Regions from separate parts of the Homo sapiens genome. Here region 2 is linked to region 1. Evidence: fine-mapped expression QTL. Tissue or cell type: cerebellar hemisphere. Region 1 holds a variant in brackets; the other region holds the start of a gene. All regions are shown on one strand. Distances are between the middles of the regions.

Region 1 (5,226 bases):
TTCTCTGGTAAAGGGAGGCCAGTTTCAGCCCCTGGTGCAACAGCACCCCCATGCATTCATCATGTGAGATGATAAGTGTCTTTCCTTGAACCAGTTCTTCTTCTTCCTCCTAGGCTGGGAACTTCTCCTTGGAGACAGCAGGAACTGTGTTACAAAGGCATATGGCCCAACAAAGGACACTGAGGCTACTCAGTAATTATTAAATGAGAGCATGAACAAAGGAATGTAAGATGTAACAGAAAACATACGTGTCTCACACATGAGAATTATTGTGTAGAAGCTGTTTCCCATTTGAGACAAAATAAGAAACACTTGTTGAACGAGTAGATGGGCTTCCTCTGGGAGCACAGCAGGTAGGCACCCATGTTGGAGCCAGCCATGGTCTGCAGAGTTCATTTCTCTGAGTCCCTGCCCCAGAGGCACATGACATAGGAGGCTCCAGACAACTGACTCAAAGACAGAGAGGACCATAATACCAGGGTTCCTCAGTCCTCACCAGCATAAGAATCCCAGAGAAGGCATTTTTTTTCTCACATACTCTAGGTCTCAATCTCTTAACTTCAAAAATGGCAGTGGCTACATTAGCTCTTGGGACCAGTGTTTCAAAGGCTAGTGTAGAACACTTGCCTCAGATGATTCAAGATCCAGGTTTCCTGACTCTGCTTCTGCTGTAAAGAATCCCACTCTGGAGGCTGGGGCCTGCAATCTGCATCTTTAACAAGCCCACCAGAGAATTTCAATGCAGTTTCACTTTTGAGGGTTTTTAACTTGATTGTCCATCAGAACCACCTGGGGAGCTTTCAGCAAATGCATGCCGACGCCACATGCATTAATTCTGCGGCCACACAGAGGGGCCTGCATCTGGGTCTTTTTTACAAAGCTTTTCATAGGATTGTCATCGTCACCTTTCCAGCACTGTTATGCAAATTGGAGAGACTCATGCCAAGGTGAAGGGCTTGGTGAGAGCAGCCAGGTCTTCTATGCAGTGATCAGCCTGCACAGCTGGGTGTGGCATCTCTGGCTCCCAGGTGGTTCCAGTGCACACCCCCAGTTAAGAACCAATGAAGAATGTTGCTTGTTAACAACCTTTGAAGGCTTTTTAGCAAAAACAAAGTGTCATATTGGGATTCATCTGTGGCAGTTTGCAGAACATATCAGGGGAGAGAGGTGTGTGCAAGGCATCCACCAGGAGGCCGTTTTGTGCTGGTCTAGGTAAGAGGAGATTGGAGCTGACCTGTTGAAGCAACAAAGAGAAAGGGAGGAAGGATCATCCTAGAAGTGGATACCAGTTCTTTAAGAAGAGTCCTGAGATGTACCCAGGAGTAGCAAAGTGGATGTGCCAACCCGAGGGAAGAGATTAGTAAGCTGCTGCCCCCTGAGACAGGGCTCCATGAGCTGACAGGTTGATCTGTGGAGATACACTCTGAAGGTGCTAGACTAGGAAGAGGTCCTCTCAGGCCCCATCCCTTCATCTTCAGCCAAAGGAAGTTCAGCAGTAGCTGCCCCTGGCCTCTGTTCTCAGTCCACAGCTCCACCAGCCCAGTTGCTTGTGCAGAGGGAGAGGATGTGGGAGAGATGCTGTCAACACCCTCCATGTCCCCTCCACCCACCCTGGAGGCCGCCTATGACAGTTCGCCATAGGCGAACTGTTTCTCTGGTTAGGAACTTTCTCTGGCTACAGGAGTGTGCTGCACCCGAGTCAGGAGGGCTGGAAGTGCAGGATAGTTAACGTCCCCAGTACAGTTTTCTACCAAGGAGAGACCGGTGAGATGGATAGATGCCCCAGCTTTCTCACCCGTTGATGACACACTTCACTACCCTCTCCTGGAGCTCCCTGAGATCACTGCCCATACAAACTAATTGCACCCCAATGCTTGTCCCAAAGTCTGCTCAGATAAGGGCCGTGTGAATAGACAGGTCTTCAGTTCCAGAAAAGTGTATACTCACACAGGAAATATCTCTCAAATAACATGGGCAGTGTATATGTTATTTTTCTGGAGGGCAGAGGGCATCATGAGGAAGGTGGTCTTCGTGGGGTGAATATCATGTTTCCTCCAGGGAGGGCTCAGTGACATGGAGCAGTGCTTCTCAAATGTCCATGTTCGCAGAGGTTAGCTTCTAACTCATCAGGTCTAGGGTGGGGCCTGAGAATCTGCATTTCTAACAGTGAGCATGTCCAGGGACCACACTTTGAGTAGCAAGACCTTGACAGCTTCAAGTTGCAAACCAGTTTTGAATGAGCAGAGTAGAAGGGGGTTTGCAGGTGAGAAGGAACTCTTCACCATGAGTACATTTCTATGAAGATTTCTGGCCAGGATTTTAGTAAGTACCTGAGCCCCTTCAAACATTTGACTCC[C/T]GCATAACCTTTTCATCCAAACACCATTCATGAGTTGTTTTTATGCCATGAGGTTAAATTCTTTCCTATCATTTCAGGGGAGGTCCCCACTTGTTGAGTTTTCCGTCAGCCTATAAGGCAAAGGAAAAGAGTGATAGAAAATAAAAATAACTTGATTCATTAGATGGAATTCAACTTGAATTCTTAGTTTGTTGACTAAGAATTTGCAGCCTCCGAGGAAATTTTTTTTAATTGAAGAAAAACTAATTTTTAAAAATCTGAAAATAATTCGTTTGTGACTATTTAACAGAAGGAAAAACTTCCTGAGTGAGCATCAAATACTTTAATTACTTCTTAGGCTTCAGAAGGGATGGCTTGCTAGTCTTTGTACTTTGGGCTTTCTGTTACGACTGGTTGACTTAGATTTATTTGTTTATTTAGCTTCTTAATTTCATATCCTGTGGTCCTGAAGAGGACAATCACCAGGATTTAGGGGAGTGTTTTTGTCTTTATTCACTTTGGAAAAATGTAAAGATTAGTCCTAAGCAGGGTTGATTCACCGCACTACAGAGGGACACGTTAGGAACGAGACAGCTTATTCAAGTGCTTTTGAATTTGTATTGGTTTTTTAAAATGTAAGATTATTTTTACTTATTTTAAATCTTTCAAAGCACTTTTTTCCTCAGGGCCAAGTGGACTCTTTGGGAGGAGACCTCGCCGTCTCCATTTGATCACATAATTGCTTCTGATGCCAGCCAGTCTGCAACTGCCAGTGATTGGCACAGGGTTATTTCATGTGCACTTCAATCAAATTTCTTTTCTTGCCTTTTTTTTTTTTTTTTTTTTTTTTTAAGAAAAAATCTCACTGTGGCACCCAGGCTGGAGTGCAGTGGTGCAATCATATCTCACTGCAACCTTCAATTCCTGGGCCTGTGATCTTCCCACCTCAACTCCCAAGTAGCTGGGACCACAGGTGTGTGCCACCACCTCTGGCTAATTTTTATTTTTGTTGAGACAGGGTCTTACTATGTTGTCTAGGCTGGCCTTGAACTCCTGGCCTCAAGTGAACCTCCTGCCTTGGCCTCCCAAAATGCCGGGATTACAGGTGTGAGCCATCCATACCTGGCCTCCAAATTTCACTACCTAACTTGGGAGAGGAATTTTGCATTAGCAGTTACATGGTTCATCTGCCTCAAACATTTGTTTTGACTCTAGCTTTTGCTTGTTTCACTTTTTTAAGCTTGGAAAGAACAAACTTAGAATAGTGTAGGCCTTGGCTTCCACATGGATGTTTTGACAAAATTTCAAGGAAGCAACTGGCTTTGTAGTGCTTTCTTTGTCCTGCTTCTCCAAATTCCCCAAGTGCATGGGTAATCACCTCTGGTTCCCTCGGAGTGTTCGTGGCCAGCTCCTTCCCAGCCTTGCCAGCCCATTGTCTGCATTTGGCATCTGCGCTGGAGTCACTGTGTGCTCCAGTTCCTTAAGGATACTTTTAGTTTATCTGATCTGTGCTCCACACCTCTTCAGACTCCATTTCCATGAATGTTTTGGGAGAGGTGAGGAAGAAACCTTTTCTGCTCATTGTTGCGCGTTCCCCACCCCAGGCCCCGTCTGATCTATTCTTACATCACAACTAAAAATATTCTTAAAAATGTGAATCAGATGGTATGACTCCCCTGCTCAGAACCCTCCAGTGCCTTCCCTCTGTACTTGGAACCAAGTCCAAACTCCTGATGAGCAGCAGGGCTCCGCATGGCCTGGCCTTTCATCTGTTGCTTCCCAAACGTGTGGCCTCTGGTTGGTTTCTGGAACTCACCATGCCTTTCCCCACACATGCTGGTTCTTCTGCCAGGGACACTCTTCACTCTCCCTTCATGTGCTTAGCCCCTTCTTAGCTTGCAGGTCTCAGCTAAATGGTACCTCCTCAAAAGGGCCTTCCCTCCACCTATACCAGGTATAATGCTGTTTGCCTCCTTCAGAATGCCTCTCACAGGCTGTGATTACTTTAAACAGATTCGTTGAGATATAGTTCAGATGCCATGCAATTAACCCTTTTAATGTATACAATTCAGTGGGTTTGAGTATATTTTCAGAGTTGTGCATCTATTGCCAGAGTCAATTTTAGAACATTTCATTACCTCAAAAAGAACCACCATACTTCTTAGCTGTCGTACCCCTTCCCCTATTTCCACCAGCCAAAGGCAACCAGAAATCTACTTTCTTTCTCTCTAGATTTGCCTATTCTGGACATTGTGTATAAGTGGAATCATTTATATGAAATGGAGCCAGTCCTTTGTGACTGGCTTCTGTCACTTAGCGTAATGTTTTCAGAGTTCATTTGTTTGTGGCATATGTCATACTTCATTCTTTTTCATGGCTGAATAATATTCCATTGTATGGATATACCACATTGTGTTTATTCATTCATCAGTTGCTGGACATTAGATTGTTTCCAGTTTTTGGCTATTACAAATTATGCTGCTATCAATATTTGTGTACACATTTTTGTGTGGGCTCATGTTTTTATTTCTCTTGGGTACATACCTAAGAGTGGGATTGCTGGGTTACATGGTAACTTATATTTCACTGTTAAGAAACTGCCAGGCTGCTTTTCAAAGCCACTATACTATTTTACATTCCCATCAGTAGTATGTAATGGTTCCAGTTTGTCCACATCTAGTCCAGCATTTGTTATTGTTTGTCTTTTTGATTGTAGCCATTCTAATGAGTAGGAAGTAGCATCTCTTTGTGGTTTTGATTTAGATTTCCCTGAAGGTTAATGATGTTGAGCATCTTTTCATGTGATTATTGGCCATCTGTATGTATTTTTTGGAAAAACTATTCAGATCCTTTACCCATTTGATAGTTAGGTTACTTATCTTTTTATTATT
Region 2 (5,226 bases), 270 kb after region 1:
GTTTATGGTTAAATTCTGAGGTTGAATTTTCCCTCTAGTTAGTCAAAATCATAGAAAATAGAATGGTGGTTGCAAGGGGCTGGGGGCAATGGGGAGTCTATGTTTAATGGGTGCAGAGTTGCAGAGTTTCCGTTTTGTAAGATGAAAGAGTTCTGGAAATGGTGGCAGTGGTTGCACAACAATATGAGTGTCCTTAACACCACAGAACCGTATACTTAAAAGTGGATACAGGCCGGGCGTGGTGGCTTACGCCTGTAATCCCAACACTTTGGGAGGCTGAGGCCGGTGGATCGCTGGAGGTCAGGAGTTCGCAACCAGCCTGACCAACATAGTGAAACCCCGTCTCTACCAAAAATACAAAATTAGCCGGGTGTGGTGGTGCATGCCTGTAATCCCAGCTACTCAGGGGACTGAGGCAGGAGAATCACTTGAACCCGGGAGGCGGAGGCTGCAGTGAGCCAAGATCATGCCATTGCACTCCAGCCTCGGCAACAAGAGCAAAACTCTGTCTCAAATAAATACATAAATAAAAAGGGGATACAATGGTAAATTTTAAGTATATTTTACTACAATTTTTTAAATCTTGTGAAAAAAAGATTTTTTATATTTTACCACAATTTTTTTAAATCTTAGGAAAAAAGATCCCTCTGGCTACTGTGGTAGGATGGTCGTAGCGGCCAGGCAGACCCAGAGACACAGAGGGAGGCTGGCTCCGGAGCAGGCAGGAGGCGTGAGAGGGAGGGCCAGGCCCAGGATCCACCATGAACCAGCTGCCGACGGGCCAGTGGCTTGCGGGAGAGAGAAATCAGGGCAACTCCAGGTTTGGGGCCTAAGCACCCTCTGGATGTTCACACTGAACGTGTTCCTGGGGCTCAGAGAGGGTAGATCTGGGAGGGGCCTGAGGCGATGTTAAATGTGAGACCAAACGTGCTGGGAGAGATGTGACAGACGGAAGATGGAGACTTAGGCCGGGGCAAGGTTCGGGGGAGTTGGGTCAGGGAGACACTGGCGTTTCCATGCTATTTGCAGCCTTCAGACTGGAACTGGGAAGGAAACTGGAAAACAAACAGGAGTGAAGGCCCAAGCTCTGCTCCTGCTGCCATTTAGAGGCCTGAAGGAGACAGGTGGAGTGAGAGGGGAAGGAACAATGGTGACTGAACTGACTGCCGCTTGGTTGACAGCGGGCATTGGTGACTTAGGAAAGAGCCATTGCCAGGGAATTCAAGAACAAACAGAGCGGGTGGGCTGAGGGGAGATGGGGGAAGAGTCGGTGGGAAGAAGTGAGGACACAGAGTCTTCCTGGGCACAGAGACAAAAAGGGACAGGGAAACGGGTATGCACAGGTACAGTGGACACACTGCCACTGTCACAGACAGGGTCCCTGTCCCAAGTGGGGATCAGACAGACATGCCAGGATACAGGCACACACATGAGGTCGGACAGGCAATGGCACACATGGGGACGAGCCAAATGCCTGTGACACAGGCATCCCTTCACACACAGGGACCCTGCATTGTGTCTGTTAAACACAGTCACACACTAGCTGTAGGTCTTGCTGGACACAGACTGCCCCCGAGTCCCCAAGTCCCCAGACCCCTGTAACAGAGACCTTTGTGGGGTGAAGACTGAACACAGGGAGAGGGTCTTGGGCAGTGGGCAGGCTTTAGCAGCGTGGCTTTGATGGGATGGCCCACGCTGGCTGGGCCTTGGCTGGGACTGAGGCCCTAAGCCGCCAAGAGGAGGTTGTGCCCCTGGAGTTTCTGGAAGGCTCTGTTTGCAGCCCCTCCACCCCACAGTGAGAGAGAGAGAGTGGCAGTGGAGTGGCAGCTGAGGTGAGGGAGAGGTGTCTTCGCTGCAAGAGCTGGACTGGCCTCTCCCATGATGGGTATCAGGGTTCCCTGAGGAGGGCTGTGCCAGGCAGTGAGCTCACATTTGGGTAGGGACAGCAGAAATATCTAGAGGGAGCCCTGACCACCTTCCCCTCCTGAAGTGAGCTGGGTCTCACAGAGCCTGACCCCACAGCCCCCAGCCTTGGTCCTACTTCCTCCTAAAGTTTGCTGGAGTGGCCTGGCCCTCTTGGTCCAGGCGGAGCCCACCACTCCGGGTGAGGGATCAGGGGCCCATCTAGTACTCCAGAGAAGGAAATCCCAGTATCTTCCACACCCCACCTCTTAGCCCAGTCCAGGCCTCCATCCCCTGCTCTCTCTGGCCACTGGTACCCAGGCAGTGAGACCTGGGAGACTTAACCATAGCCCTGGGGAGGGCGCTGGTCCCGACGGCTTGCTCGATATTTGTTGACTGGCTGACTAAGTGAATGCCTAGCCCGCTGAGCACTGTGTGGTGGGGTGTGTCCTGCAGGGCAGGAGCTAGGATTGAGTTACAGTGGTGGGGACCAGGAGTAGGGAGGCAGAGACTGGCCCCGTGCCAGGCCTAGCACTGCCCACAGGCAGGGCGAAGGCGCGGGAGCAGTTTCCAGCAGGTAGGCCTGGGCAGAGAGTTGGGGGGCGGGGGTTTCCAGGGAACCAGTGGGGCAGAGTGGGCTATTCAAGTCAAGGGCATAGAGCATAGGGTCCCAGGGCTCAGGGCCACAGAGCCTCCGCGGCAGAATTGGGAGGCGGCAGCAGCCCAGCAGGTGAAAACACTGATGGGGCAGGGCAGCTGTGGCCGGCAGCCCAAGGGGAAGAAAGTGGCAGATTTTGTAGATGGGCAGGGAAGTCCGTGGCCCACAAATTCAGTGTGCCTGCCCCCAACCCTGGCCCCATCCTCCTTTCCCCTCACTCTAGAGGGCGGCACCACTCCCTGCTCCATGGAAACTGAGCAAGGTAATCTCGGGCTCCCTTCAAAGGTACCCACAAAAGAAGGAAGGGCTCCTGTAGGGAGAGAAAGAGGCACTGGAGGAGGGAGAAAGCGAGGAGAGAGGAGGCACCCAGGGACACGAGGGGCAGGGGGAGAGAAGAGGGGGTGTGTGAAGCGGGTAGGGAGTGCCCCGGGAAAGAGAGGGGAGCCTGGGGAAGAGAAGGAAAGACCTGGGGAGGAGGGTGGGGAGGGAGAGAGGGAGGGGTGTAGGGGAAGACAGGGAACCAGGAAAGGAGGAGGTGCCTGGGGAGGAAAAATGGGAGAAAAAGGGAAGGATCCCAGGGGAGAGGGGAAATCAGAGGGGAGAAAGAAGAACCAGGGGGAGGCAGGGGCACCCAGTGGGGACAGAGGGAAACCCTGGAAAAGCGGAGGCGTGGGGCATGGGGAGAGAAAGGGAAACCAGGGAAGGAATTGGGCATCCGGAAGAGAAAGGGGCCCTGAGTGGAGGAAGTGCACCCCCAGGGAAGAGAAGGAGGGCTTCTAGGAGAAGGGAGAGGACCAGGGATAGGAGGGTTCCCACTTGGGAAGGTGGTGAAAGGGAGTTCCCCAGAGGAAAGAGGGCAGGAGGGTTTGGGAGGCTGGAGGGGGCACTGTGGGGGGTTCCCCTGAGGAAAGAGGGCAGGAGGGCTTGGGAGGCTGGAGGTGGCACTGTGGGGAGGGAGGAGGCCCCCAATCTTTGAGCACCCATTCCTCCCTGGAGTCCAGGTGAAAGAGAATGAACACAGGTGCCATGCGAGTGCGACCTCAGCCCTGGCAGCTGAGGGCTTGGCTCTACGGGCTGGGGCTGGATATCAGACGGGCTCCCGGACCCCTGGGGGCGATGCTGCCTCTCCCAGTGACACCAGCCGAGTCCCAACTTTTTGGCTGCCAGTTTGACTTTCCAGTCCCCCATGTGCCCTGGTTGACACTGTTCTGAGGCCATCCAGTAGTCTTTCTGGCACTCTGTCACCATGTTGTACTCTTCCATGAGCTACAGCTCACAGTTTCTGTCTGCACCTCTGGTCACTGCCTGCCTGGGCCTCTGGTAACTGTCACTGGTCACTATTTCTGCCTATTACTCAGTGTCCTTCTACGGGGCCACCACTGGTGGACATCCTGCTTGTCACCCAATGTCCTCACGTTTTCTGTTGCTTGAGATCACCTTTTCATGGCCACTATGTCTGCCTGTCACTCATGTCATTGTCACACCAACAGGCCATCAACTGTGGCAACAGTTCTTGGGGCAATTAGGGTGCACGGACGGCTCCCTTCTCTATTCATTTTCACTCAGTCCAGTCGCAGGGCAGCACACTTCACTCATTCAACAAGTACTTACTGAGTACCTGCTGGGGGCCGGGCAGCTGGGATCCCACAGTAAACAACAAGACAAACCCCTGCCTTCAGGAATCTGCTGCTCTGGTGAGGGAGACCATAGCCAACAACCATCCTATGGTTTCCATAGGGTGTCGGGAGGAGCTGTGAGCTGTGACGGACCCAGCTCTAACCCCCTAGAAGGACAGCCCACTCTGCCCCTGCTCCCCTGCCCCACAGCCTCCTCCGCTCCCACATTTCTTTGGCTACATGTTGGGTGTTGCCACAGTGTACTGTGAACTCACCAGGGCCAAACCAGGGGCCCTGACAAAGGTGTAAGGAATGTGAGCCACTCTATGACACCTATTGTGCCACACCTGATTCTGTAACTCTGTCCCCTCACCTTGTTCTGCCTGGAGCCAAGGGTGTTCCTGCTATTGATAAGACACAGTGGGAGTGGAGGGGGAGGAGGGAAGGACTAACACACCAGGGTCACCCTGAGTGAGAGATTCAGAAAGAAGTGACTTTTGGACCAAACCTCACACACAGGTTTCTGAAGGAGTGGTGCAGGGAAGCCTCAGGTAATTGAATATGAAGTGCCAAGACATAACAAAATCGACAGAAGTGAGGGTCCCTTCCTTCCCCCAGGTACTTCTCATTCCATGTCACTGTCATTCACTGCCCTCTCATTCTCTCCCTCTCTGCACGCGCAGAACCACAGAGCACAGACTCGAGCAAGCTAAATCGCTATTTGCAGAGCCTGTGGCTGTTTGCAGAGCCTGTGTTTATACAGAGTTCAGCTCTGTTTCAAGAATTTGTCAGCTGAAGCGGGAAGATCACTTGAACCCAGAAGGTGGAGGTTGCAGTGAAGTGTGTTCGAATCATGCACTGCAGGCTAGGGTGGCAGAGCAAGACCCTGTCTCGAAAAAACTGGAAAAAAAAATTGTCAAGTGTTTATGCCTAATCTGCCCAACCCACTCATATCAGCTGAGCCTGTCACTTGCTGCAGAATCTGAGTCTTCATAGTCTGTGTGCTGACATTTGTGTGTTTACAGAGCCCTCCTAATAAAAGTCATGTTC

Evidence for each region. PIP is the estimated chance that this variant, and not a neighbour inherited with it, causes the effect.
Region 2: VILL starts here. The variant in region 1 is the best candidate, but not a certain one, in a credible set for the expression of VILL in cerebellar hemisphere (GTEx, PIP 0.81).

What each region holds. Positions count from the first base shown.
Region 1 is chr3:37,717,954-37,723,179 of GRCh38, forward strand. The region is part of intron 18 of ITGA9 (integrin subunit alpha 9); the gene reads left to right. Among named protein-coding and RNA genes, the nearest start is that of ITGA9-AS1, 140 kb to the right of the region's middle. The variant C/T (reference allele first, on the strand shown) is at 2,357.
Region 2 is chr3:37,988,351-37,993,576 of GRCh38, forward strand. VILL (villin like) reads left to right here and starts at 2,436. Exons shown (of 20, transcript NM_015873.4): 1 at 2,436-2,479. RefSeq lists an enhancer at 4,448-4,742.